Linked DNA regions of Homo sapiens. The protein of the gene in region 4 purifies or fractionates together with the protein of the main gene of each other region. This does not show direct contact. Each region holds a gene or a part of one and is shown on either strand. Other genes may lie near its edges.

Region 1 (7,722 bases), on a different chromosome or scaffold from region 4:
CGGCCACGGGCTGAGGGGAAGGAAAAGGGTCCCAGGCAGAGCTTGGGAAGAGAGGAAAGGTGCCCAGAAGGTTGGCTGGGAGGAAGACAGCCTCGTCCTCCCCGGAAGGACTCAGGAAAGACACAAGAGGGAACCCAGCCCGACTGGCAGGGCGGCTGGGCCCGAGGAGCAGGAGGCAGAACGAGGCACCCACAGGGTGGGTGCTCTATCGGCCTAGTTTCCAGTGACTGCCAGCCTGGTGTTCAGAGAGCCAGCAGCCGGGAGTAGTGCCCGCTTCCCCCACAGGAAGTTCCTGTCTGCGCCCACCCAGGGGCTGGTGCTGAGCAGCTTCTCAGCTGAAGGAAGTGGCTGAGGGCGATGGGTGTGGGGGCGTCGACAGCCTTACAAAGGGAGGGGCGATCGCGCACTGGCCCTCCCAGCAGGCACCCGGGACTGCCAATGTGTCTCCCACACTGGCCGCTGCACAAGCTGAGAAGCTGGGACGGCCCGTGCCTCAGGGATCTGCCTGGCTGGCAGGCCAGCACCCTCAGCAAGCCCCACAGCTGTCCTGCACGAGTGGAGGCTGCTCACACAGCCCTTCCAGGCAGGTTCGTGATCACGCGTGTCCTGGCCCACAGGCTTCTGGTTACAGAGGTGGCTCACTGCTCAGACTGTCCCCTGGCTGAGAACAGCTCCTGCTGGGCCCCCAGGGGGCCTCCTGCGCGAGGGCTAGAGCAGGGTGCATGCCCCCACACTGGGATACTCTTGCCATGAGAGATCTACCCTGGAGGAGGAAGTTGCTCTGGTTGGGGAGCTTGCGGAGGGGACAGAACCAGACCAGCAACAAACTTCCGAAGGGAACCTGAAGAGCCTTTAAACTTTCTGTGGTCATTTGCATGCATGCCTTAGCAACACCAACAAGAAACAAAGTTAGAAGCAGAGAGAGAACAGCCAGAAAACAAAAGCCAGCAGGAAAAGTCGGGGAGAAAAATCTTTGAAAGGCAAAGGCTGTGTGAAAAGCTCTTGCAGGACCCGCGGTGAGACTAGGATGGTCGTCATTCTACCAAGAAAAGCATGGCAGAGGGGAGTTTTATAGGAAAGATGCTCCACAATTCCATGTGGTTCTGCATTCTGTGTTATGGAAACTACATTTTAGGAAAAGACATATTTGAAAAAGAAGGGCAAAGACCAATTTGTGCAGGTTAGGAAAGTGGAGATGCTGTGGCCGACCACACGGTGAAGGTGTTGGCACCCAAAGCCTACGGGAGGCTTTTCTAAAACAAGGCCTAAGTCAAGCCTCACAGCGCTCAGTAACAGATGAGAAGGTGCGGAACACACCTTCAAACACCCGCTACCTGCTCACAAGAAGGAAGTCCTGCCAGGCGCGGTGGCTCACGCCTGTCATCCCAGCACTTTGGGAGGCTGAGACGGGCAGGTCACCGGAGGTCAGGAGTTCGAGACCAGCCTGGCCAACATGGTGAAACCCCTTGTCTACTAAAAATACAGCAATTAGCCGGGCGTGGTGGCGGGTGCCTGTAATCCCAGCTACTCTGGAGGCTGAGGCAGGAGGATCACTTGAACCCAGGAGATGGAGGTTGCGGTGAGCCGAGATGGCGCCACTGCACTCCAGGCTGGGTGACAAGAGCAAGACTCTGTCTCAAAAAAAAATATTCCCGTTCAGAGGCTGCCCCCCCAAAATGTCACGGCTAAGTGAGATGGAGGAGCAGGGGCAGAGCCTGTAGCAGCCTCACAAGAGAAGTAGGTAGAGCTGTCCCAGCGTGGGCAGGCGCCTGTGCTGCCTGACACAGGTAATGAAGGCAGCTCTGCATCCTGACACTGGCCCTGCCACCTCCGTGGGTGACCAGCACACATCCACCTAGCAGTCCCAGCTCCCTCTGTACCAGGAGCCCCTGAAGTCAGCTGACTTTGCTTGCAAAATGTTCTAGAGCCTCCTACCAGTCTGGGTGCACCCCCCTCCACTCCACCACCTCAGCAGCTTGGATGTCTGCGGGGAAGCCCTCCTGCTCTCTCTCTCCCCTGCCACTGCTGATTTTGCTCAAGAGCTGTATTATTCAGCACTTAGGAGGGAGCAGACACTGATCTAGGCTTCCTCCCAACGGGGCTGGCAGCTCCAGAATACTTGAGCACAGCTCCCCGCCAGGAGAGCCACGTCCTCCAGTTTCTGTTCCTGAAACACCCTGGAGGAGCCGGCTGTGAGCCCTGGTGCAGCTGGAAACCCCAGCAAGGTGGTCAGTGTCTGCTCCTCTGTGGACCAGCCTGCCTGGCTACTCAGTGATCGGTGTGACTCAAGTTCTCCTTCAAACAAAACTAAGAACATCAGACTCCAAACAAGCCCCTCTAAACTTTAGGGAACTCCTTTCCTCTGTAGTCAAAACAGGCAGACAGCGGGTCCGAACAAGAGTTGATAGCAAAAACTACAAGTTATTTATTTACAACTGCCCATTCCAGCCGCACAAGCCCAAATCCACCACCACTGGCGGAGCGGTGGCACCTGCTGCCCTCTGAGTACCGGAGCGCCCGCCGCAGCCGCCGGGGACCCCGAGCTTGGGCAGGGCCGCAGGTCGCCCGGTGAACCGAAGCAGCAGTCGGACCGGGCGCCTGCGGCTGGCGCGAAGGAGGCTGGGCGGGGGATGAACGCGCCCAGAGGGCAGAGGCGGCGCGGCACAGGGAAACCCGGACCCCACGCGCCCCGAGGCCCCGGCGCCCCGAGTCCCCGCGCGCCCAGTCCGGAGCTGCACCGGGGCGGCCGCCGGCCTCGCGACCCCTCCCGCGGCGGGGCACGGCCCCCTCCCCGCGGCCCCTGGGCGGGCGCGCTCACGTGTGGCCGCAGCTGCCGATGGCCACGGGCCGGTGATAGACCTCCAGGCAGATGGGGCAGGTGTACTGCGCCTCCAGGCCGCTGTCGCCGCCCGCCGGCCCGGCCGGCGGCTGCCGCTGCTGAGCCGAGGCCACCAGGCTGCGGAACATAGCCATCCCGGGGCCAGGCCCGCGCCGCCCGCCGCCCGCTGTCCTGGCCCGGGCCGGCCCGCTAGTCACAGCCGCTACTGCGCCGCGCTGACGTCATCGTAGGGCGCCGCCCCCAGCCGGGCTTCGCGGCCGTCACGGCGCCACTCCGACGTCATCGGGGCGCGCCCTCGCGCTGTCGCCGCCACAGTCTGCGACGGGACCCGGCGTGCCCATGTGTCAGGTGGGCGAGGACTACGGGGAGCCGGCGCCTGAGGAGCCGCCCCCGGCGCCGCGGCCCAGGTAAGAGCTGGCGGCCGGACCCGCCAGGCCGCCCCTCGCCTTCCCGCCGCACTCCTGCCCCGAAGGGTCCCGGCCGGGCTTGCTCCGGGAAGCCCCGCGTGGAGAGCGGGACCTCGCTCCCTAGCACTCGGGGAATGCCTGTCAAGCGGTGACGGCCACCTAGAAGGGGACTTACTCCACTGGCTCGCGCCTCTCATCCTAGCAGCCACTGGGGACGGCTCTGCCGCTGACAGTGCTGTCCTTATTCGGAGAGAACTGGTGCCGTGAAGCTGTCTCGCCTCCCCGTGTCAGCCTTGGGAGACTGAAAAGCGGCCTTTATGTGCCCCCTGAGCCGGCTTTTCTAGGCTAAACATCCCCCCAGAGCCTTTGTTTTTCTTGAAGTTTGGACAGAACACAAGCCTGGGTTTGTGTGTGTACCGAGGTGCCTTTCTCTGACCCAACTCAGGGTGAGAAACAGGAGCTGTCTCCCCAAAGCCCACTAGGCGTGGGGAAGATGTGATCTGTGTTTCTCTCTTCTCCCCCCTCCCATCTCCAAAGCCGTGAGCAGAAGTGTGTGAAGTGCAAGGAAGCGCAGCCCGTTGTGGTGATACGAGCCGGAGATGCCTTCTGCAGGTGAGGCCTGGAGGTGGCTGAGACCCTGGCAAACATGGCCTCGCTAGCAGACAGGATAGCCGCAACTTGTGATGCTTTGTTAATTCTTTTTAAAAACATGTACTTACTTTATTCCTGCTCCTGATGGGGTCCCTCGTGCCCCTGGTGTTGAAGTGGAGGCGAAAGCATTGGTTTCCTGCTTGGGAAAGTTTCCCATGAGCTAGCCACAGATCCCCTGATGAGGTTTCTGATGGAACTTATGGGGACAGTTGGAAGTGGGGCCGTGGTGTCTAGACTGGGATAAGCTGTAGGAGGACCAGGCGTTTGGGGGCAGCTGGAATACATCTAGGGGCGGATCAGAGCATCTTGGGAACTTGGCAGATGGTCTGGGTGAAAGTTTTTAATCTCGTGTGAGATGCTTGTTTCATCTGTGGCAGGATAGAGGCTTGGAAGACCTCTAGCTTTCCCCCAGGCGCTTGTCATGTCTTTCTTGGCTTGTAGCCATTGTATTGTTCAGTTGTTTCCACTAGACTCATAGCTCCCTGAAGGGAGGACCAGGTCTCTCTCCTTTTAGCCCTCTTAATTCCCAGTGGTGGTGCGTGGTTTTTTTGTTGTTGTTGTTGTTTTTTTTGAGATGGAGTCTCCCTCTGTCACCCAGGCTGGAGTGCAACAGCTGGAGTGCATGATCCCAGCTCACTGCAACCTTTACCTCCTGGGTTCAAGTGATTCTCCTGCCTCAGCCTCCTGAGTAGCTGGGATTACAGGTGCCTGCCATCATGCCCGGCCAATTGTTTTTGTATTTTTAGTAGAGACAGGGTTTCACCATGTTGGCCAGGCTGGTTTCGAACTCCTGACCTCAAGTGATCCACCTGCCTCGGCCTCCCAAAGTGCTGGGATTACAGGCATGAGCCACCACACCTGGCCAAGATAGGTACTTCTTTAACCACCCAGGAGCATCTGAAATTGCCAAGAACACCAGGCTGCCGGCAGAATTCACTGAGGAGAGGCTGCTGTGGCTGTATGCTAGGCCCTTGTGGCCAGAAGGGCTTTTGCTGTGCTTGCTGGTCCCAAGGAACAGTGGGGAGCCGGCTCTCTAGGGGAAGGCCTTAGGAATCTACATCGAGCTGGGATCCCCAGGGATCATTCAGGTCAGCACGTGGGAGAAACCTTGGCCTTCCCTGACCCACAGGGGACAGCGTGGTTTCAGGAGCCCAGACGCAGCATGTACACGTGGACCCACCACGCTTGAATCCCAGCTGGTGGTGTAGGGCGCAGAGGCTCTCCTGGTCCACAGTGCGGAGGTGAAGCCCAGCACCTGTGTCTCCTTGTATGAGACTCCCCACGCCCAAAGCTGGGTCCTGGGGGTCACTTCCCATGTCCCAGCCTTGATACTTGCCAGTTACCTGCAGTCCCTCACCTGGCATCTTGCTGTTAAACACAGACTTGCTTTACTGTCTGTAAAGGAACCACAGGGGGGTCATTCGGCCTCTTGTACGTGGTATCCATTCAACGTAGGGAGGGACTGCTGTGCACATCAAGTGTGTCTGACAGGAAGGAAGAGACTTAGAGCCCCAGGTGCAGGGTGACTCTTGCAGTGGCATTGTCCGCTCTGTACCGGGTGCTGCTCTTCACCCTGCCTGCCAGGATTGCAGGAGAGCTTTAAAATGCAGACTCCTAGGCCTCACCCCTAGACAATTTGACTTAATTGGTTTGTGCAATTCTAACATACAGCCAGGGCCAAGAACCCCTGACGTAGTGAGCCAGAGTCAGATGGCTGGAAAGTTTATTATGAACAAAGATTACAGCTGGGCGCAGTGGCTCATACCTGGAATCTCAGCACTCTGGGAGGCCCAGGCAGGAGGGTCACTTAAGGCCAGGAGTTTGAGACCAGTCTGGGCAACAAAGTGAGACCTTGTCTCTACAAAAAATACAACAATTAGCTAGGCATGGTGGCATATATCTGTAACCTGTAGTCCTATCTACCTGGGTGGCTGAGGCAGAAGGATCACATGAATCGAGGAGTTTGAGGCTGCAGTGAGCTATAACTGTGGCACTGCACTCCAACCTGGGTGACACATCGAGACCCTGTCTCTTAAAAATGCAGTTCCCAGGCCTGGAAGTTCTGATTCTGTGGGGTTAGGGGAGGAGCCCAGGCCACTCTGTGAGTGAGCCTCTTAGCCATTCCTGGCCCAGTTGAGCCCAGCACACTAAAGATGCCAGCTCTGGGGCCCCAGGATACTGAGCCCTCGCTGTGGCCCACCCCATTTCCGCACTTCACCCCAAAGAGGTGGTGTCTCTGCATGGTGGGTCCTCGCTGTGGCCCGCTCCATTTCCACGTTTCACCTCCAAGAGGTGGTGTCTGTATGTGGTGGGTCTTTTTTTATGGGGTCTGGGTTGGCCTTGCCCTGTACGTGCCTAAGTCTGTCCACTCCACCAGCTGGGCCCTTCTGAGCGCCTGTGGGGAGGGGTGCCGGGGCTCTGCCCTCGTTTGCTGGATGCAGCCTCCGTGGCTGTGCAGTTTGTACCTGGTCGTGGGAGGGGCCGGTGAGCCTCGTGTTCACCCTGAGGAAGCCACTGCCAGAGGGGCCAACCCCGCCCCTTTCACCAGTCTCTGGACAGAGCCTGGATGTGAAGATGCTGCTTTTAAAGATGGAGATTGGCAAAGGACGTCGTCACCTGGCAGCGCCTCAGGACGCTGCTCACTGTGCGGGTAGCAGGCGGTTCCCTCATCTCAGGTCTGTGTTGCAGGGACTGTTTCAAGGCCTTCTACGTCCACAAGTTCAGAGCCATGCTGGGCAAGAACCGGCTCATCTTTCCAGGCGAGAAGGTAGCGTCTGGGTCCTGGGGGTCTGACTGAGCAGCCTGGCCCCTCGAGGTCCCTGCTTGTCCCTCCCACAGGCAGCCTGGCCTGCTGCAGCCCGCCAGCTCCTCCTTGGCCTTTGAGGACAGACTCGATGTCCTAGATGTCCACGAGGTGGGGTGTCTGCCTGTGTTGGAGGTGCGGTGCCCTGAGTGATGTTTTTTCTCCCCCAGGTGCTCTTGGCGTGGTCTGGGGGGCCTTCGTCCAGCTCCATGGTCTGGCAGGTTCTTGAGGTGCGTGTTCACCACCCCGTGGGCCCGGGCTGCTGGGCTGAGCTTCAGGCTGGGGGCCTCCCTTCTCAGCCTGCTGAGGGGCTCTTGGTTGGGGCTAGAGAGCAGTCCACCCTGCGGCCTGGACACTTGGGGGGTTCTCAGATGTGTTCACAACAGGTGCACCAATCAGGAGCTGAGTCCACAGTGTGTGTGTGCGGCCCACTCTCAGATGTGTTTACAGCAGGTGCACAAATCAGAAGCTGGGTCCACAGCGCGTGTGTGCGGCCCACTCTCAGATGTGTTTACAGCAGGTGCACAAATCAGAAGCTGGGTCCACAGTGCGTGTGTGCGGCCCACTCTCAGATGTGTTTACAGCAGGTGCACCAATCAGAAGCTGGGTCCAGAGTGCGTGTGTGCGGCCCACTTGACTTCTGTCCATTTGCTCAACCTGCGTAGAAACACAGTCAGTGGAAAGCTGCATCTTGGCTCAGCCATGTGTGACCCGAGGGAAGATTGGGAAAGGGGCGGGGGTTTGCCAGGAGAAGCAAAGGGAGCAGCGTTTGAGGTGGAGGCGGCGGCCCGCGCAGGGAGGTGGAGGCGGGCTTAGGCTGCACACAGGGCTCGGCTGGGGGTGGTGGGGCTGTGCCCGTGGCCTGTCAAGGGTCAGCTCAGGAAGTCTGAGGCAGGTCGGGCTTCTCAGGAGGGCACAGGAGCGGGATGTGCTTGGTTTCTCTGCACTCTCATGAGAGGTGCAGACCGGAGGAGGCTGTTTCTGTGGGCTGGGTGGTTGAGAGGAGAGGGGTCGGCTTTGCC
Region 2 (7,537 bases), on a different chromosome or scaffold from region 4:
AAAGTTATAAACTTTAACAAAGACAAGTGTTAAGGATTCTTTAGAATAACAGTTTTCTTTTTAATATGGAGAAAACAAAAAGGAGCTGAAAGTCCTTTGTCTTGCTATCTAAGAATAGCACACTAGATGGTGCTATAAGGCTGTCAGAAAGAGAGTTTTACCAGGCTAGTGTGGCATTCTGATGGTAAAGTGTTCTGGAAACTTTCCACTTACTTTCAGCTCCTGAGAGCCGTTCCAGGTTTATATAAAATTAATGGGAATCTCAATTGGACAAACTTTAGCCCTGAGATGACATTAACTTAAAACTAAACCACAGGCTTAACACATTAAAAATAGTTTCACTATTTGACATTTCAATCTGATTCCACTGAAATAGAAATGTTAAAGTCATTAAAATGTCAATGTATTAATTTAAATGTATTGCTATTAATTTCACTTAGCTAGTCTTCCCATGAGCCTAGTTATAACCACCACTTAATGAATCTTTAAGTCAGTTTAAAGTGGCTTCCTGAAATTTTGAATTATCATTAAGCTGAACATACAAATCACTCTTACATTTAGTATTGCAAATATATTAACACAAATACATGAAACATTGTATTTGGAAATCACTCTATCAGTATATTATTTCTTATAAAAATAACATTTCATGATTTTTCCACATTACAATAAAACCAGAAAAATTTTACTAAAGTGCAAAACAAAAATAAAGCTTTACTTTTATAATAGTTCCATTTCATTTTCTTTTAAAAAGGTGAACAACAAAATGAACGAATAAAGATATCGCTTTTGCAACCTAAGAGTCATTTAAGTTTTAAACTTTCAAAGACCTGAGATTTGTGATTTTTTTTCCCCTTATCTTTCCAGTTCTGCTTCTAGAATTTCCCCCCATGTATCTGCATCCATTGGGTACATGATTTTTTCTGGTAGGCTAATGGGAGAACAAATGTTGCTGTATCTGCCACTTAGCCATTCGTGTTTCACTTTACTCTTCTGGTAATTCCTCAGCAGTATCACCTGAAAGAGGTAAATCACCGTTAAAAAAGACTGTAGTAGGTGGTTGGTTAGTGAATGTGTTTAAAGCAAGAGAAGCAGATTGACAGGGCTGAAAAAAAGAGTATTTACATTTATATATACGTACATTAATAAATGTATGTGTCTGTGTACGTGTGTGTATGTATATGTGTATTTATACTGAGTGGCATAAGGTGAAGTGGAAAGAAGGAGCTAATTCCCTTCTGGTTAACGCAGGAAAATTCCCGAATTTAGAATTTTAAAAATGCAAAAGGATAAATGAAAGATAGTGTGGAAACAGTGTGGTTAGCAGGAAAAGACTAATAACTTTAACTCATTTCCAAGAGTCAACACACTGTCTGTGTTATTCTGCATATGTAATTCTGACTCCTCCAAGCAGAAGTTAGAATTGGCGCAAACCTGCTATCATAACGCTGTCAACAACACTGCAGATCGCAAAGATTAAACTTACCCTCCAGGAATAACCACTTTCTAGATCATCATCTATTTCTCTTCGGCACACAGCTCTTACAGTCATGCAGTGAGGTTTCCATAAAGAGTCACTGTTTCTTATTGTGTCATTCCAGCTCCTGCATGTCAATGAAGCCCTGCACAGACTCCGAATGTCCAGCTGACTGAAAATTTTAAAAGTGATTTCTGCAGGCAGCAGTTCAAAAAAGTTGTTTTGACTCTCATTTTTTTCCTTCTCAGCATCCACAGAGTTCGCTTCTGTGTGAGAAACTCTTAAATTATTGTTTCTCTTGGAGTTTTTATGCATAGCTTAATGTTTTAAGTTATCCTCATATGTAACCTAAAAGGCAAAATTTAAACATGCTCAGTCTCCAAATAGGAGTATAAATCCTACTTTAAGTCAGATGCTTTTTGGGTATAATTTAAGAACTCTTTCTTGACTTTAGCTTCTCAATCTGTAAAATGGGCCAATGCTGCCGCTCTCCTGAAAGTTCTTGCAAGGATTAACAGTGATAGTGGGTAAAATATCTAGTCTTGCTACATCTGAATTGCACATGGGAGGCACCCAACATGTTAGTTTCACTCTCACCCAGGCTGGAGTGCAGATGTGTCATAATAGCTCACTGCAGCCTCAAACTCCAGCCTCAAGCGATTCTCTTGACTCAGCGTACCCCGCCCCTCTTTAAAAAAAAAAAAAAGAAAAAAAAAAAAACAGAAAACCAAAAACTGTTTTACGGAGAAATGGTTCTTGCTATGTTGTCCAGGCTGGTCTTGAACTCTTGTCCTCAAGCAATCCTTCTGCCTCAGCCTCCCAGAGTGCTGGGATGACAGGTATGAGCCACCATACCCGGTACTTTTGTACCTTTGAAAATGTATATGAGTCAATCCTATTAAACTCCTGAATACTTGTTGTACATGGGAACTGATGCCTCATCATTAATTTGCAATTTGTGACTTAATCATAAACTTGCTGGACTTCTAGTTGTTTATATAAGAATTTTATCTACTTGTATCTTATAGGTAGGTAGGTGCTTACATTTGACACAACTACTATCTGAAATGGACAAGAAGATGAGATCTGGATTATGAAACAAAGTCTCAAATATTCAACTCAGTCATAAGAGTAGTGTTTTAGAAATGGCCCCTTGAAGCTATCCTACATGCATAATTACAAGCTAAGGATAATAGTCACTGAAGACATCAAGCAACAGTGAGTGACAACTGTAAACAATGTTTAGAACTCAGCTAGGTACAGTATGTGACTCTTTGAAGCCCAGATTTAAAGCTCAGTTTCAGCTAATTTACCTAAGGTGAATGGTGTAGGCTTCCCAAATCAGTTGAAAGCATGACTGGGTACATCACCATCCTTGAGTTACTTTTGTATATAAAGACAGCTTGTATTCACTTAAAATCAGTTTATTCCATTTTGCACTTCCTTTTATAACGGGGGTTGGTTGTGCAAGAGGAGAGGTTTGAGGTAAATACTTCTTTTAACTCAGCTGAACACAAATCTCTTTTCTAGACGAGCTACTCAGCTATGTTTTCGGACTTGCCAAGACCACGGTGGCTCCCATTCATGATCCAGATTAGCTGTGGTGGCTGGAACTGCAGTCTGTGTTCAACAGAGGTCTTCTTCTTGAGGGTTAGGAGAAGTAAGAAAGCAAACGTAAAAACGGGTGAGTCAAGAGCAAGTTTTTGCCATGCACCTTGGCCCCTCCCACCACCAATACAAACCAAAGCCAAACCACAACGTTCTTGAAAAGAATCTCACATTAGGAAAACGTTACAGTGCATTTAAACGTTACAGTGTGTTTATCCACTTCTCCCAGGATCTTACTGGGAGAATAAAATGCGTCCCCTTGTGGAATTCCTGTAACGGGAATGAAGGCTTTTGAATTTCACAGCAGGGGATACCTTTGCGAGTTTCTAAAATCCCACTAGGAATCTTTCTTCTACGTCCAGGTTCGCCTGGATGCCTGGAAACGACCCCTCTTCTGCCCTTTCTCCTTTATGAACTGAGCTTTCCTGAATTCTCTCTCAAGTGAAGTAAAAGCTCGTCCCCCTTTCAACTATCATTCGGAGGGATAGATCGGCGGCAGCGCAGTCGGAGGGGCGGGGAGCCCCACTCCGTCCAAATCCCGCGGGTCAGGGCTAATCACCCCACGTCCCGTCTGAGCCACCCTCCTTGTGTCCCGCGCGGGTTGCAGCTGCTGGAACCCAAGAACACAGGGCACTGACAAGTGACAACAACCGTCAGCGTTGACTGTCACTGCGGCTCCAGGCCGCGGAGGGAAGGCTGAGCTTGCGTCCAGGCCGCGTCCCCGGGAGCGTAGACACCTAAGCCAACGGGAACGGAAGACCCTTCTACCTACTAGGCCGCGGTAGCTTCTCCTCCCGCGATTTAAATCCACCGGAATTCGAATCCTTCCCCATAGCTCTTCGCATCCCGCCCACCTGAGTCCCGCCCTGCTCAGAACTCGCGCAGGCGCCGAGAGGGGCGCGCAGTGCCTTTGGGGATTGGTAGTTTTTTCCAGGGCGTCTCCGCTCGGGAAAGGAAGTGAAGAAAGCCACCAGGACTACAAGGCCCGGCGTCCTCCAAGATGGGAGGGAGGTGAAAAGGGTGTTGGGGAATAAGCCGGGGTTTTTAAACAGTAGTTTTGAGGCGGCGAGACTGGGGAATCCCCGGTTGCGTCATTAGTAGGCGTGGAGGGGCGGGACTCGTGAAGCTGCGCTGGGGCCGGGCTCTGAGAGGACCGGCGCAGCCGCGGGGAGCCTTTGAGGCCCTCCCTCGGTGTTTTTTCCCAGGGCGTGGGCTTGCCCCGCGCGTGTCTGTGGAGGGCGGAAACAGCGGAGGGGCCAGTCTCCTGGCGAAGGGGCCTAATCCTTGCCCGCCATGTCCGGGGGCTTCGAGCTGCAGCCGCGGGACGGCGGTCCCCGGGTGGCCCTGGCGCCCGGGGAGACGGTGATCGGCCGCGGGCCGCTGCTGGGAGTAAGTGTGGGCGGGGGCTTAGCGGACCCCGAGAGCCGTGGAGTTCCGCGCCGGCTCCTGAAGACCGGCCCTAGTCCTGGCCGGTTTCCCCACCGCACTGGTCCGCCGGTCCGGATTTTAGAAGTTTGGGGCCGCACGTTTTTCAGTTACCTTTAAGCCAATTCACAAACATTTCTTTATGTTGCTTTTAAAACACTGACTGTATTACCATTATTATCTTATCCAGGGATTGGCAAACTAGTGCCTGGGGGCCAAATCCAGCCTATGTTTGTATGGCCCCATGAACTAAGAATGATTCTTAAATTCTGAAATGTAAAATGTAAACAAAAAATCTACTAATTTTTCAGGGGGAATAGTTGCTCCAAGGGTTGAGGGTATTGCGGCTTGTCTTGTAAAGCCTAAAATATTTACAGTAGTGTCTGGTCCTTTACAGAAAAGTTTGCCAAACTGTGATATTACGTCTTCTAGGCTAATTTCTTTTAACCTTTGGTCTCCTTTGCAGAGCTGTGTGGACCTTATTTATTTATATTATTTATTATTTCCAGTAAAATGAGTAGCTAACCCTTCATAAGTAATGTGTATAGCGTTCGTGTCATTGGTCTAAGGAGACATTACCTATACCAACATCTTTAACTGTCTCAAGACCGTATCAGTTAGCTATTTTTATTATCCTCATTGTTCAGATGAGAAAATTGAGCCATACATACATTATTTAAAGTCCATACATAAGCTTTTGGACACATAATGCCACAAAGCTAAATATTCTCTACCTTCTTTGGGAGAGGTTTAGGAATAAGAACATTTGCATATTGCATTCTGGAATTCTATAGATCTCTTAAGTACATCTAGTTTTCTATTTTGTTCTTTAACATTCAACATTTCTTGTTTGGTGCTCACTGTGTAGAACATTTTGCAGATTCTAGCACTGTGGGGCATACAAAGATGAATGGAACATGGGTCCCTACCCTTTAGGAGTTTTCTCTTGGGACCGGGGAGACACCTGTGTCAGTGAGCTAACACCAAGGAGTAAGGAGTGTGTACTGTTGTCCTGGTTAACTTCCAGAGTCTAAATGGAACCATTGGTACTTGCCTTAGGTCCCTTCTGGGAGCAGGGAAAGGAGTGGTAGTTTAAGATTGTATTATGGAAGCTGGTCCTAAAGGGGTGTGTGTGTGTGTGTGTGTGTGTGTGTGTGTTGTGTGTTGTGTGTTGTGTACATGCACATGTGCATGTGGTAAGGTTATTGAGGAAGTAGATATTCAATTGCTGTTCATTTTTTTACTGGACAAGTGATTATTTAAATATTTAACATCATTTCTATTTTTTTCATCGTTTGTTGGCCTATACAAACACTGGAAGGAACTGTCTGGAGGCTTTATTTTTCTTTTAAATTCGTAGGTTTGAAACTTAAGAGTATGTGCTTAATCTAGTAATCATATGTCTGGTGACTAACGAGTTTTGACTTGCTTAAGAAATTGTCACCAGTAGAGTACTGTGGGTCTGGTTAAAAGGTGGATGAATTTTAGGGCCGTGGTTTAGAAACATGGCAACAGATTGCAGACCGTTTCATTATTTGTAGCTTGTTCTTTGTGTTGTCGACTTGCTAATGTGAGATGAGCCTATTTGGTATCTGTTTTTAAAAATGGTAAGGAGTGAAAGCTGGGCAATTACCTGGTCAAGATTTTGCTTTTCCTTTTGAAATAACATTCAGGGATGAGATTCTTTTGCCAAGGTTGGCGTGTATCAGAAGTGGTTATGAATGACATCCTAAGTGTGTTAAAGGAAAAATTTGGAGAACAAACAAATCGCCTTGTAGTTTTTTCGATTTTGGAGCTGACAGATGCACTCGATTCTTCTCTGCACTGGTTAAAACACAACATAAGGGCTCCTGTTTCCAACAACAGCAATTCCAGTGAGATTTATTTTTGTATTGTGAGAGAGCGAAGACTGAGTTCTAAGTGGAAAACTCAGTAAGTTCATTGTAAATTGGAATCGGAAACGATTAATATAAATAAGGATGATTTTGAACTTTCTTAATTGGGCATGTTTTTCTGAGACAAGCTTCACAAACCTTGATGGCCACACAAACATAAAAGTTTATAATCTGACTGTGTAAAATAGTCTTGGTAGTAAAACAGTTTGACAATGAGAATGGTTTTGTATTTTTATGGTGGTAGGAAAACACAACAGAGAAACCTGTCACAGAGAACAAAGGACAATGAAATTTAATCTTTCTTGTTCCCTTTGCTTTCATGTGAGTCATCAGAGAACCCCAGGTCTTTGTTTACTAGATTTTGATTCTGCTCCATGATTGGCATCAGTTAGAAGGTTTTACAGCAGGATTAATCTTCAGAGAACTTGAGTTAAAACAGCCAATCCAAAAGATTACATATTGTGTGATTCCATTTATATAACATCATTGAAATTGCGAAATTGCAAAATTTCAAAAATGGAGAACAGATTAGTGGTTGCCAAAGGTTAAAAAATTAGGCAGCAGGGCAGAAGGGAATGGATATGGCTATAAAATAGCAACATGAGGGATATTTGTGGTGATAGAAATGTGCTTTGTCTGGACTGTGTCAGTATCAATATCTTAGGTTGATATATTGTACTATAGTTTTGTAAGACGTTACCATTAGGGGAAACTGGATAAATGGTACAAGAGATATTTCTATATTATATCTTTCAACTACATGTGAATCTACCATTATCTTAAGAAATTTAATTTAAAAGGGTTTTACAGTACGACATGTCAAGCACTGTTAGGCCAAAGTATTTGCTTTATGGGTTTTAATTAAAGCTGTTACACTCTTAAATGAAATCTACTATTTCTGATTTCAGATTTTTCTTATTTTGTTTTGACAGCAGGGATTATATGACACATTTCTTTATGATCTATTTTCCTCCTAGGAAACAAGATAGCAAAAGATATCTAGTGATACTTTCTCAATGTAGATGTAATTAAATTGACTGCTTTGATTAAAAGGAGAAGAGTCCTCAGTTGGGGGAACAGGGAAGGTCATAGGCTTCAGTATAGACTCTTCAGGTGGCATCAGTTCACCACT
Region 3 (7,306 bases), on a different chromosome or scaffold from region 4:
TTTTTTAAAATTTTATTACTTATTTTTGAGATGGAGTTTGACTCTTGTTGCCCAGGCTGGAATGCAATGGTGCAATCTCGGCTCACTGCAACCTCCGCCTCCTGGGTTCAAGCAATTCTCCTGCCTCAGCCTCCCCAGTAGCTAGGATTACAGGTGCCCACCACCACACCTGGCTAATTTTTTTATTTTCAGTAGAGACAGGGTTTCACTATGTGGGTCAGGCTGGTCTCGAACTCCTAACTTCAGGTGATCCACCTGCTTCGGTCTCCCAAAGTGCTGGAATTACAGGCATAAGCCACCATGCCTGGGCCAAACTAATTTTTTATATTCCAAAATCATCTTGCACTCTCAAAGATAAGCCACCTTCATCTTAGAATCTTTCAAGGAGTCATAATTTATGCAGAAATCTACATATGCCTTCTTTTTTGGTTCAGCCACAGAAATTTTAATAGAGAGATGTAACCCCAGGGCAAAATGAACACTTCAACAACATGAAATCACAGATGCCTGGCCAGAAGGCCACATATCTGAGGTTTCATGAAAGCACTGGAAGCCATGGTAGTTTTTGTCCTTGTAGGTTTTGTCAACCTCAATACCAATGTCCTTTCTGGCTGATGGAGAGACGGGAGTTCTTTATTTTTTAAAAAAGTTTTATTGAGACAGAATTCACATAAAATTCAAAAGCATACAATGTAATGATTTTTAGCAGAATTATGCAACCATCACAATTTTGGAACATTTTAATCTCTATGTCCTTGAGTACAATCATTCCCCAACTCCCCTATCTCCATCTCAGCCCTAGACAAACCACTAACCTGTCTCTATGGATTTGTCTATTCTGGACAATTCATATACATGGAATCAAATAAAATGTGGCCTTTGTGTCTGGCTTCTTTCACTTGTTTTCAAGGCTCATCTGTGTTGTGACACGTATCAACACTTCATTCCCTTTTACTGCTGAATATTTCATTGTGTAGATATACCACATTTTATCTATCCATTCATCAGCTGCAGGACACTTGGGTTTTCACTTTCTGGCTATTGTAAAAAATGTTGCCATGAACATTTGAATATGTTTTGTATGGACATTTCTCTTGGGTATACATATACCTAGGAGATGAACTGCTGGGTCATATGGTAACTTTTCGAGGAATCATCAGACTGTTTGTCACCATGACTGCACTAGTCACTATTTCACATTCCTAAGAATGTATCAAGGTTCCAATTTTTCCACGTTAACCAACAGTTTTTATGTCGTTTTGATGACAGCCATATAATGAGTGTAAATTAGTATCCTGCTTTTTTTTTTCTTTTGAGACAGAGTCTCGCTCTATCACCCAGGCTGGAGTGCAGTGGTGCAAACTTGGCTCACTGCAACCTCCGCCTCCTAGGTTCAAGCGATTCTTGTGCCTCAGCCTCCCAAGTAGCGGGACTTCAGGTATGCACCACCACGCCCAGCTAATTTTTATATTTCTTAGTAGAGACGAGGTTTCACCATGTTGGCCAGGCTGGTCTTGAACTCCTGACCTCAAGTGATCCGCCCCCACTTGGCCTCCTGAAGTGCTGGGATTACAGGCATGAGCCACCACGCCCGGCCCTCACTGTAGTTTTGATTTCATTTCTCTGATAGCTAATGACGCTGAGCATCATTTCATATGTTTACTGACAACTGTATGCCTCTTGGAGAAATGCCTGTTCAGATCCTCTGCCATTTTGTAGCTGAGTTGTTGCTTTATTATTGAGCTGTAAGAGTTTTCATATTCTAGACACAGGATCTGCAGACATTTTCTCCCATTCTGTGCATTTTATTTTCACTTTCTTGATAGTGTCCTTTGAAGCACCAAAGTTTCTAATTTTGAAGTGGTACAATTTATCTATTTTCTTTTTTATTTTGGAGACAGAGTCTCACTCTATCCCCCAGGCTGGAGTGCAGTGGCACGATCTCGGCTCACTGCAACCTCCGTCTCCTGGGTTCAAGCAATTCTCGTGCTTCAGCATCCCAAGTAGTTGGGACTCCAGGCAACTGCCCCATGCCTGGCTAATTTTTGTATTTTTAGCAGAGACTAGGTTTTGCCATGTTGGCCAGGCTGGTCTTGAACTCCTGACCTCAAGTGATCCTCCTGCCTTGGCCTCCCAAAATGCTAGGATCACAGGTGTGAGCCACTGTGCCTGGCCTATCTATTTTCTTGTGCTTTTGGTGTCATATCTAAGAAGGTTCTGCCTAATTCAAGGTCACTCAGATTTACTTTATACTTCTTCTACAAGGGTTTCATAGCTTTAGCTGTCACAGTTAGGTCTATGATTCATTTTCAATTAATTTTTTTGTATGGTCTGAGGACTAACCCAACTTCATTCTTTTACATTGAATATCTAGTTATTACAACACCATTTGTTGAAAAGACTATTCATTTCTCATTGAATTATCTTGACATCCCTGTCAAAAATTAAATGACCATAAATGTGAGGATTTATTTCTGAATTTTCACGTTTATTCCACTCTTCTATATGCCTATCCTTAGGCCAGTACCGTGATGTTTTGATTACTACAGCGTTGTAGTAAGTTTTGAAATCAAGATGTGTGAGTTCTCCAACCATCAGATACTCTTCAATAGCTCTATAAAGCCAAAACACTGGTCATTCTGAGCTATAATTCTGACTTCCCCTATAAAGTCAAGATAAATGCATACATAAGACTCTTCCACATTTTTAAGGCTTCTGCTTGTTAATAAGGATATATGATAGCAACTGAGTGTTCTGTTGTATTTCTCTACCACAACAAAATATATTATGCAAAGAAGTCACTACATAGAAATTATATGCCTTTTCTCATTGATTTTCAGTAAGAAATGTTTTCCTTCAGGTTGGTAAAAAGTTTTACCATTAGTTCTCACCAATAGTGAAATAGTAATGGCACTTAAAACTGCTAGTCCCTTTGTATGAGTCAAGGTAGTGGCGCCAAACTACTTCTCCATTACTACACACTCAGGAAAAAAGGCCAGTTTCACGTAAAAGTCCTTGATGAAGTAAAAATGATTACCATTATAAAATCCCAAACCCTTGCATTTGTCTTTTAATATTCTATGTAAAGAAATAAGAAGTTATAAATAAAGCACTTCTGTGTGCAGTGAATTTATGATGGTTGGCTAAGTAAAAGCACTTGAATACATATTTCAGTAGCAAGATAACTAGCCATTTGAAGACCTGGATTAGCCAGGCATGGTAGTAGGCACCTGTAATCCCAGCTACTCGGGAGGCTGAGGCAGGAGAATCTCTTGAACCTGGGAGGTTGCAGTAAGCCGAGATTGCATCACTGCACTCCAGCCTGGGCGACAGTGAGACTGTCTCAAAGAAAGAAAAAGAAAAAAAAAAAAAAAAAAAAGATCAACAATGAACAGATTTAACCAAAGAGGTCTAAACCTTACTGAATAGGAATTTCAGAAACAAAAGACATCACTAAGGAAATGCAGGGACCAAAATGATCAAATAATGCACCATCCTAGGACTGAAGAATATGAGCTTGAGACTAAAAGGATTTCCCCAAAAGAGACATATCAAAGCACATTGCTGTGCAATTTCAAAACAGAAGGGATGATTCTAAATTTCAGAGAGAACAGGCTATGTATGTATACTGGAAATAGAATCATATCAGCCTTCTCAAAAGTAACACTGAAGTCTTTGACGCCAAATAATGGCTTCAAAATTCTGAGCAAAAAATGATTTTCAACACAGAATTTTATACCTACTGCATTAACAAAGCCAATAGAGTTGACTTTGGTTAACTATATTATTAACCAAAAGTGAGGGCAAACTAGCACTTTAAGACATGCAAGGGCTGAAGACATTTATATTCTATGCATCCTTTTTTTTTTTTTTGCATGGGGTTACAGTGGAGCTAGTGGTGAGCTTTTTATTTATTCTTTTTTTGAGACACAGTCTCACTCTGTTGCCCAGGTTGGAGTGCAATGGCACGATCTCAGCTCACTGTGGCCTCTGCCTCCTGGGTTCAAGCGATTCTCGTGCCTCAGCCTCCTAAGTAGCTGGCATTACAGGAATGTGGCACCATGCCTGGTTAATTTCTGTATTTTTAGTAGAGATGGGGTTTCGCCATGTCGGCCAGGGTAGTCTTGAGCTCCTGGCCTTAAGTGATCTGCCCACCTCGGCCTCCCAAAATGCTGATATTACAGGCGTGAATGAACCACTGCGCCTGGCCCATCTTTTCTTACGAAGTTCTTAGAGAAAATGTGCTAAAGAAAAAACAAAGCAGAGGCTCTTGGATATAGGGGACCCAATATTGCAAAGTCCCGAGGTTCAACAGGCCTAAAGAGTAACCTATACAGATGGAGCAGGATAATGTGGGGGGTGGAAGTGGGGAGTGAGGTTGCTTTTAAGCAACAGAATAAAATTCTGAGTGTGAGAAATTTAGAATAAAAGACTGGTAACAGGATAATGTGGGGGGTGGAAGTGGGGAGTGAGGTTGCTCTTAAGAAACAGAAGAAAATTCTATGAGTGTGAGAAATTTAGAATAAAAGACTGGTAACATTATAATAGATTTATTGGAAAAAATTAAGGCTAGGGAGACTTTTTTTAAAGGAGAAAAACTGAGGAAATCATTAATGCCAGGAAAAATAAAAAACTGTAGAAAAAAAGGAAAGTTAATCATACTTTATTACTTCACCCAGCAGTGAAAACATCTATATGAACATAAACAATGTAAATAGTAACTACTTATTTTACTAAAAATTGTGGGGAAAAGTTATGAAGAAGGATGGATGTGTGATAAAGCAAGTACAACAAAATGTTAACTGTGTGGGGTGGTGGGTATAAAGGGTTTACTTAAAATTCTTTCAACTTTTCTGTCTTTAAAATTTTTCATATCAATGTGTCAGGAGAAAAATGTTAAGGTATCAGGAGGTAGGGAAGTTGGAATGAGTGTGATGACACAAAGAAGTTAAATTCAGATTTACCATAAGTTAATAACCGTTAAAAATTCACAAATCAAGAAATAGCAGTATATATAGATATTATTTAGAAATATGAAAGAAACAAAAAACTCAAAGTGGTTGCCTCTGGGATAGGTGACTTTTTGTTTTAAGGCTTTTATTAGAACTATGACTTTTAAAAAACTATATCTATTACTGATTAAAATAATTTTGAAAGTGAGAGTTAAATAAAATATAAAACAGGTGGCAAAGAATCTGCAAAAATTGTGAAGGTGGTATCTGGATGATAAAAGTTGGAGAAATAGTGCAGCAGCAGAACAACTATCTTCCTTTGAACCAAACTGATACTGCCTTAAAAAAAGAAAGTATTTTTGCAGTCTGGTTGTAGCTAAATACCCATATAATCAGTTACCACTGTTCACTGAGTGACTTCTATATGCCAGGCACTGTAGTTGTTAATAGGGATAAAAAGTAAATATAAAAAGTAGAGATCTAGGGCTGGGTGTGATGGCTCATATCTGTAATCCCAGCACTTTGGGAGGCTGGGGTGGGTGGATTGCTTGAGGCCAGGAGTTAGAGACCAGCCTGGCCAATATGGTGAAACCCCATCTCTACGAAAAATACAACAATTAGCCGAGCATGGTGGCACACACCTGTAATCTCAACTACTCAGGAGGCTGAGACACGAGAATTGCTTGATCCCGGGAGGCAGAGGTTGCAGTGAGCTGAGAATGCTTCACTGCATTCCAGCCTGGGTGGCACAGTCAGACTGTCTCAAAAAAAGAAAAAAAAAAAAAAAGTAGAGAACTAGACTATAAAAGCTGAGTAAGCAATATTTAAAAAAAAATCTCAATCCATCTGGGCATTTATTTCCATCTAACCCTCCTTACTCAGCATTATTAAAAAGTTTCTTGGCCAGGTGCAGTGACTTACACCTGCAATCTCAGCACTTTGGGATGCCGAGGTGGGCGGATCGCTTGAGCCCATGAGTTTGAGACCAGCCTGGGACAACACGGTGGAACCCTGTCTCCACAAAAAATACAATAAAATAAATAACAATAATAATAATAATAAAAATTGGTCAAGTGTTGTGGCATGCACCTGTGGTCCTAGCTACTCAGGAGGCTGAGGTGGGAAGATCACCTGAGGCTGGTTTGGTTGAGGCTGCAGTGAGCAGTGATTGTGCCATTGCAATCCAGCCTCAGCCACAGAGTGAAACTCAAAAAACAAACAAACAAACAAACAAACAAACAAAAAAACCTTTCTCTATCCCACTCCAGAGATAAAGGAGCTATTAAGAGCTGAGTGTGAGTGGAAGTAATCCACTGCCTGACTGAAATAACAGGAAATGCCTATACAGCTGGCTCTCCTTATCTGTGGATTCAACTGTGTACTGAAAATTAAAATGGCCAAACATTTTTCTATGTCATTACCCCCTAAAAAATAAGTATAACTATTATTTACATGCACTTACACTATATTCGGTATTATAAGTAATCTAGAAATAAAAAATAATGGGAGGATATACATAGGCTATGCAAATATGCCATTTTGTTATCAGAGACTTGAGCATCCTTTGATTTAGGTATCTAGGTATGTCCTGGAAGCAATCCCTGACAGATACTGATGGAAGACTGAATTTTTTTTTTTTTTTTAAAGAAATGGGCTCTCTCTCACTATGTTGCCCAGGCTGGTCTTGAACTCCTGGACTCAAGCAATCCTTCCACCTCAGCCTCTGGAGTAGCTGGGATTATACAGGCATAAGCTACTATGTATTTTTTAAAATCCTTCCTGAGCCACAGAACATAGCTGTTGAATCTTAATAGAACAACCCAGAACAAGAAACTAAGCCACCATAAAAATCTGCAAAGAGCCAGAAAGCTCCACTCAAGAGAAGCACTGACACTTTAATTCATTAGTTTCTTCAAAGGCATAAAATTTCTTTGGGGTCAGTCTTCCACTACCCCAATCCTGACAGTTGGTGTATGCTCACAAGAATGTGAGTATTCCTTCTGAAAACAAATATTTTTGACATTTTATGGAATTCTTCAAGAAAAAAGGCAGATGAAGTCAAGGTCCACTCATATCAGAATGTCCCAACAGGTAGGTCTCAAATGATATACAGATATGCCTGGATATTGTACCACTCAGCCCTCAAGGCAGCTGGAACCCTGGGATGGTAGATAACCTCTTTTGTTTCTCCCAATGACCAGCACTAATCATATTACTTGGTTAAAAATAATCGTAATCATGAAAAGGCTGGCAATCCCTGAAGAAGGATCTAGTAGGCATAAGAGGACAAAGAAACATGCAGCCCATTTCCAGGAACCACCACTACCACCTGCGATATTCTAATAATACAGAGA
Region 4 (7,306 bases):
CAAAATAACTACAAGATGCCAGGGAATACCTTTACAAAGCTACCATGTGAAAAATTACTTCAAATCGGAAATTTAAGTGCTCAGAATAGAAAAGAACAAAATGACAAATGCTGACCAAATTCAGGAAAGAAAATTAAGAGAAAGACAAAACCATCTCCTACATCTCATGGATTACAGAAATTAAATGGAAAAAGCACATGACAAAGTCCGCACTGTTGATGAACGCAAAATAAATGCTTAATGTTAGCTGCAATTTTAAAAACAAGTAATTCTACTGTTTAGAAGAGGAATCGCTATGTGCAAAGCATCATACCAAGGATGGTAGGCTTTACTAATAAAGAAGAAGATGTTTGCAACCAAGGGAGAAAAGGTACAAATTCAAAGCCTTAAGATTGATACTATCATAAACATTAATACTATGATTTTGGTTCACAGTTCAGCTACAAGGGAAGAGCCACACAAATTTCCAGTTAGTTTGGGTAACGTTCTTTTATCAAGCAAGTCTTAAACAGTGTGCCCAAATGACAATAGGGTAAGGGAGAAAAAAGATGCCCCAGAGAGCAGCATCCAAAACTTTCCATGGGGACGTGAGCTCTAGCTTGGGGTGGTTGTGCCATTTGCTCTGCTCTAACCTCCAACTTACTTCCTTCCTCTTGATCTCTGCTCCCTCCTTCTGCTGCAGGCAAGGCATCAGAGACCCACTGGCCATCTTTTGTTTCTCCCAGGATGGACTCCAGGTCTATTTCATCCATGGTGCTCCCCTCAGAGGCCAGCAGTTTATCCAAACCAAATTTGAGTATCTCACTCAACTTGAATAGAGGAAACAAAAAAGTCCAGCAAATTCTCATGAAAAGAAACATTAGGATATCAGTGATTGGCTAAGTGGATTAACGACACCAGGCACAGTCCTTCTCTAATGAACAGGCAGCCTTTCTGCTCTCCCCATCATAGATAGTAACAGCCAGGGCCATTTAATAGTTGGATGATGGGTAAGCAGAGAGGTGATAAATGATTATCAGAGGTATTGACTTTGACAATTCTGCATAAAAACAAAACAAAAAAAATGTATAAGCCTCCAATTTTTTTGAAGAATAATAGTAACTTCCTGCATTTTCTACAGCACCTCTCACTGACTTTTTCATAAGCATTCCCAGCAGCCACTTGAGATCAGAGACCCTGTTAGCTACTTTCCAACCTCTCCACTGCCAGACTCCTTAGAAAGGGAAGGCTACACTAGGAACTTTACCTCTATCATGAACTGACTCCTTTTCTTTGGCAATTTGTTTTCCTAACACAGTGGTCTATCGAAACCACCTTGGCAAAGATCAGTAACAACTTCTGACCACCAGACCCGAAGGCCTTTTCTCAGTTTGAATTTTTCTGGATGTTCCTCTGGCATTGCACTATCCTGCTTCTCTTCTCTCGTCCCTCTCTGGAGTACTCTCAGCCTATTCCCTATGGCTGTAGGAACCATGCAGAAAGCACAGATAATTTTTCCTGGCTTTCACTTGCTACTTCCAACTTTGCACCTCCGTAAGCACTAATTCTGAGATCCTGACCCAAGGTGGATTCAAACCTTGGGCCCTTGTTCTCATCTTGCCCTTTTAGACTGGGTTATCTCCAGATCGTCTATTTTGTGAGTAACTTGGAAATGTTAAGGTATTCTGTAACAGCTTGAAGAAACAATAGACAGCTCACTTAAGCATGAATGTACCTAGATATATTATATTTACCCTCCATACACATAACCAGGATGACTGGCTTTGGCAGCTGGTACCAAAAATAGTAGGAAGCCAACTATTTATGATAAGAATTGGTCCATACTGGGACCCTCCCTTTCACCCCCTTGTACTTATGCTCACCTCCTGGCTCTCCCTTGTTATTGCTCACTTGCAATGTGTCTTAGTCATTAAGAAAATTACATGTGTTTTTATGAGAAGCTGTATATTACAGTAATTAAGGGCATGTGCTCGGAGGTTAGAGAGTGCTTGGATTGGAATCCTAAATCTGAATAACCTTGGGCAAATTACTTAAGATGGGGATAAAGATAGTGTCTATCTCATCCTGCTGTTATTCTTATTTACTGAAACAACTGGAAAAGAGCACCTCAGACAACACTCAGCACACAGTATCCAATAAGTGTTCACTACACCTGCATCTGCCTGCCTGTTTCTACTGTGTCCTCCCTGCAGGATAAAAAACCTGTTTCCTTCTTTCAGGACTTCAGAACTCCATACCTACTGCTTAGATTTACCAAATCAGAACCACATCTTTTACTTTTGGTTTCTTGGTATTTAAAAAAAAAAAAATACCCCCAGGCGCAGTGGCTCATGCCTGTAATCCCAGCACTTTAGGAGGCCGAGGTGGACGGATCACAAGGTCAGGAGATCAAGACCAGTCTGGCCAACATGGTGAAACCCCGTCTCTACTAAAAATGCAAAAATTAGCTAGGCGTGGTGGTGCGCGCCTGTAGTCCCAGCTACTCAGGAGGCTGAGGCAGGAGAATTGCTTGAACCCGGGAGGCAGAGGTTGCAGTGAGCTGAGATCGCGCCACTGCACTCCAGCCTGGCAACAGAACGAGACTCTGTCTCAAAAAAAAAAAAAAAAAAAAACCCAAAAAACAAAAACAAACAAAAATCCCCTGCTTTCTTTTTAGACAAGGGCTCTGGGTTATCACCTTTGCTTTTGGTAACCACAAATAACTCATAGCATCTGCATGGGGAAGAGATAAATCAGACATTAGAGTCAGAAAGTAACTTTCCGATAACCATGAGCTGGGCAAGAAGTCCAACAGAGTCGCTCTCAGCCAGCAGTCCATGTTCCCACTCGTTTGTGGCCCCATGGGGTGGAGGTATGTCTACATCTTTCACAGTGATGTGTCCAGCAGCCCACATCACAAGATACCCCTCATTGGACCCCTGGCGCTCCCTCCACTGGGAGAGTGCAAACAACCTATGACATCCTTCCTCCTCTAACAAGAGAATGCGGGCCTTGTGAGGCTCTGTCATTTACCCCTTCACTATGCCCAGCAGTGACCTTCTCTCTCTTAAGGTTCTATGGATAATTTTTCTGTGGAAAACTGCATTTAAGGGTATCTACAGCGTACCTCTACCTCTCTCTCAAGCTTTCATCTCACATTTATAATTGTCTCTTAGTGTGAAAACAAAATGTACAGCCTGCCCTAGCACCATTATGGTTAATTAAGCATGCATGTGACACAGTCAGCAACACAAGGAAAGTCAGAAAAAGAAAAAAGCCACACCTACCCCCTAAGATAAACAAAGAACAAACCCAGTGTTACTCTTTCTAGTTCTAGTCCCAAAATTAATAAAACCTTGAGCCTTTCCTGTAATTACTAACTCCCTAACAAAAACAACAGGATCCCTGTCTTTTGCAACACTGATATGTAAAGATATGCACTGGCCTTTGCAGATACGGTAACCATGTAAGAAAACTGCTGTTTTTTCAGACTAATTACAAACTTAGTAACTCTGCTTCTAATATTGTGTCACTTTTTCTCTCTTAAACACTTATGTTTTTTGATGGACTAGTCCTTTCCAATCCTAGTCCATCTTGCAAACTTTTACAAATAAAATTCTTTCCTTTTGTCTGAGTCTGCCTCTAACAATAGTTTGTTTATATTGTATTTTTACTGCACACTCTGACTAAAGCCTAAATTCTCTTTATCTTCCTAAAACTCTGCCCTACTTCTTATTTTCCTTTCTTCTCTCCTCATCATAGGGGCCTAAAACCTCACAGCCATCTTTGAATTTTCTATCTCCCTACTGTTGAGACCCAACTCTAAACAGTAGCCAACTCCTGTCCTTCCTTCTTTTGCAATGTTTCTCACACCAGACTCTCCCACTGATGCTGCCCTTGACAGACATTTATTACTCCCTTCATACCTGCATCTTTCTAGTATCCTAGGAGTTGGTCTCTTTGCATCCAGCCCCTCATCCTTAGGGCAAAAACAAAGCATCCAGGAAATATTATGAGTTTTAATTTTAACCCAAGGGCTGCTACAGAGTAACTCTAAGTCCTCTTCCAAAAGAGAGCTCTAAAATCTTCCAATCCAGTGTCTGTCTCCCATCCAGTACTCCCTTCTTTAAATAAATTACCTCTAGTTCTTTCACCCATTTTTTCTAAGGCACAATTATGAATTCCTGATCTCATTCGCCCTCTTCTGAGTATGAAGTAATGTAAGTCACTGATCAAAGGCTCTGGGACTAAGGTGGAAGTACAGAATTAATTGTTATTGAGTTCTTTATTTTAACTAATTCTCTTAACAGCCCTCTGAGCTAACCTGTGGTGTCTTTATTTTTAGAAATGCAAAAAGAGTAGATCTAAGAAGTTAAGAAAGCCGCTCAAACCCAAACAGCCAAGAAGTGATGAGGCTTGGAACTAATCCTTACTTCCTACAGACCCTGCACACAGCCAGCACTGTGGCAGGTGTGAGGGAGGCCAAGGAACAAATGTGTAGCTGGGGAGAGGGTGAGTGCTGGTTCTTTTCATTTACATTCTCCTCCACAAAGGGTATTGGTATATTCCAAAGTGAAGAACAGTATATCATATCATACCTGGAGGTCAGCATCGGCAGCGGGTTTCTGGGCTCCCAGAGTAAAATGGCCTCCTTCTATGATCATGTTGGTGAGCTGCAGTTTGGAGGCTGCTTTCCTATAGACTATTTCTTCCACAGTGTCTCGACCAATCAGCCGAATAACTTTAACAGACCTGGACATAAGTCAAACAAGGGTAGTGTGCTATAAGGGTGTGCAAAGCTGGGCAAAAGTATGCAAGGTAAATACATCTAAAAGCAAACAAAACCAAATACCATATTCAGGGTACAATGAAAGGGAGATTGGTTCATTTGGTCCTGAGCACTTGTTAGAGAGAACTCGCCTGAAATTCTCTCTGAACCATTCCAGACAGTCAAAGAAAGAATGATGGGGTAACCATGACTGGGATTCCTTATCTGTAGCCAAGGAAAATATCTGGAAGATCAAATTATCCTCAGATCAAAGGGCAACATCTATCTTTCTTTTTTTTTTTTTTAGCTTAGCTCCATAGCCCCATAACCCCATTTTTTAACTGAGTCAGACCCTAACTCAAGAAGGATGAGTTAAATGACTTCTAAAGTTTCCTTCTAATCCTTTCACAGTTTGATTTGACTCCTTCTAATAAAGTCAGTCTGGACTGATAATGTGACCCACCCAATACTACCCTAGGAGTCAATAGCACAGATGAGCTAAAACCTGGTGGTCTCTCAGCTCCCAGTGTGGGACTGTCACCAGGACTATATTCTTCACCTTTTTCACAACCCAGAACTGCTGCTGGGCAAGCCAAGGAAGCAGAAAAAAATCACTTACTTGTTTTGGCCAATGCGATGAGCCCTGGCAGCTGCTTGCAAGTCATTCTGAGGATTAAAGTCACTGTCAACAAAAATCACAGTATCTGCTGCTGTTAAGTTCATGCCAACTCCACCTGAAAACAATGCAAAAAGGAATGTAATCAGCAGCACAAAGACGAGGAGCTAGAAAATAAGCACAAGGCTAGAGTGGGTCAGACTGATAAACTGAAATCAGTCAAAACAATTGGCTTCATCCTTCAAATGGACCCACACCCCTAACTCCAAAGCCTTGTTCCAGCGGTGAGAAGTGCTACCTGACCTCTTATTGCCTGATGGGAAAATTTTTATTACTGAATGGAACAGAATGAGCGGAGCAGGGGCAAGTGGCCAAGGTGGATACTTAAGTCAGTGCCATGGAGCCACTTTATCTCTTCTGCTTAAAAACCTTGATTAGATTTTGATTAGAGTAGTCTGAGGAAAAGGACACATGCTCTTTCAGAAAACAGATCTAAATATGAGAGGTCTGCAGTGCGCACTGTCAAGAGAAGAGTGCCGAATGTCGCTTGCAAGTTACAACTAGGTAGCAAGATCTCTGATAAAAAGTTAATGAGAAGAGTGGATGATATTATACTCCTGAGCAGAGTGGGAAACCTCCTCCCTCTGATTAGAGAAAACTCCAGTGAGTCTTTTTTGTACTGGTTTCCACATTAATCAAAAAGAAAGTAACAAAACCAACGGCAAGACAAGAACACTCTTGTCATTTACTCTGAGTGTTCTGAGGCTTGCTCAGAACACTCTTGCTGGTCTTTCTTCAGTGCTGCAGGAAGAGAGCTGAGGAGGTACCTTGAGTTACAGGAATTAATTAAGAGAACCGTGAAGGTACATTGCAGCCTTCTCTTTGATTAATGTGAAAACAAGTACAAAACAGACTCCCTCTTGCCAGGGTCGTTAGAGCTGGTTGCTGAAACAAGCAAGCCTGAAAGGGCTTGTTCCATAAACCTGAATTAAGGACTAACTTTTAAGAAGGACTACTGACCATAAGCTGGATCTCCAGACAAATCAGGCAGGAATATTCTAATTAAAGTCTTCGTATCAAGTTGAAGTTGGAACAAGGAGGTAATCATGACCGATTACTGAGAGATGCTAAATTATACCTAATAATAATGATAATGACACTTACGCTGTGCTTACTACTTGCCAGGCATTATTCTAAGCACTCTCTCTATATTAACTCCTTTAACCCTCACAACAACCCTGTCGGGAAGTTGAGTAGTTGCTACGATTTTCCCCACTTTATAGATGTTGAAAGGGAGGGTAAGGGACTTCTCTGAAGTTGCAAGCCTAGAAGGTGAAAGAGCCAGGATTCATTCCCTTGCAGTCTTGGTCCAGAGCCCGTGCTTTTATCCACTATACTATAATACTTTTCAGGTGCTTATTTCATTTTAAAATGTGTTCCATAAAATTATCTTCTTGAATTCATGTTGTCTAAGTGCAGCTCTTCACCGAGGGGTGAGATTTTTATAAATAAGCCACACCCACATCCATGAATAGGAACATATTCATGAGCTATCACTGCCATCTGGTGGCAACATGACTCATCACAGAAATATTTGAAATTTGGAAGGAAACCTGTTAAATAAATGAAAATACTGCAAAACTACAACAAAACTGTGACAGCAAACACAACAGTGTTTGGAGAAGACTAATGTCCAGGACTGCTTCAGCTCCCAGATCTACTCTGAGTCCTCCAAGGAGATTAACTGAAAAGCAGAGATCTCTTTTTTCCTAATTTTAGACATTTCAAACATAATGCTGCTCTCTGAATATGAGGATGATGAAATCATTAAAGCATAAATAAAACTGTTTTCCCGGCAGTGATGATGCACTGCCTGATTCTTTCAGTTTCTCCTGAGACTAACCCTGAGGCAACTGATCACATGAGAAAATGGCTGAGACTCC

What was found.
Region 1: the proteins of CHD1L (region 4) and RNF166 purify together in Homo sapiens (affinity purification with mass spectrometry; 3 studies listed by BioGRID and IntAct, with this or other methods). This does not show direct contact.
Region 2: the proteins of CHD1L (region 4) and APLF purify together in Homo sapiens (affinity purification with mass spectrometry; 6 studies listed by BioGRID and IntAct, with this or other methods). This does not show direct contact.
Region 3: the proteins of CHD1L (region 4) and SUPT16H purify together in Homo sapiens (affinity purification with mass spectrometry; 3 studies listed by BioGRID and IntAct, with this or other methods). This does not show direct contact.

Annotation. Positions count from the first base shown.
Region 1 is NC_000016.10:88,703,353-88,711,074, forward strand, and holds the start of RNF166 (E3 ubiquitin-protein ligase RNF166), read right to left. Parts: upstream 3,057-7,722; 5' UTR 2,974-3,056; coding exon 2,819-2,973; intron 230-2,818; exon of another isoform or gene 1-229. Other genes in the region: CTU2 (cytoplasmic tRNA 2-thiolation protein 2), read left to right, coding at 3,179-3,246, 3,784-3,858, 6,586-6,664, 6,871-6,930. UniProt on the Homo sapiens protein: E3 ubiquitin-protein ligase that promotes the ubiquitination of different substrates. In turn, participates in different biological processes including interferon production or autophagy.
Region 2 is NC_000002.12:68,463,354-68,470,890, forward strand, and holds the start of APLF (aprataxin and PNK-like factor), read left to right. Parts: upstream 1-4,231; 5' UTR 4,232-4,378; coding exon 4,379-4,474; intron 4,475-7,537. Other genes in the region: FBXO48 (F-box only protein 48), read right to left, coding at 856-1,017, 1,487-1,792. UniProt on the Homo sapiens protein: Histone chaperone involved in single-strand and double-strand DNA break repair.
Region 3 is NC_000014.9:21,373,718-21,381,023, forward strand, and holds part of SUPT16H (FACT complex subunit SPT16), read right to left. Parts: intron 1-7,306. UniProt on the Homo sapiens protein: Component of the FACT complex, a general chromatin factor that acts to reorganize nucleosomes. The FACT complex is involved in multiple processes that require DNA as a template such as mRNA elongation, DNA replication and DNA repair.
Region 4 is NC_000001.11:147,273,529-147,280,834, reverse strand, and holds part of CHD1L (chromodomain-helicase-DNA-binding protein 1-like), read right to left. Parts: intron 5,482-7,306; coding exon 5,367-5,481; intron 4,732-5,366; coding exon 4,578-4,731; intron 810-4,577; coding exon 644-809; intron 1-643. UniProt on the Homo sapiens protein: ATP-dependent chromatin remodeler that mediates chromatin-remodeling following DNA damage.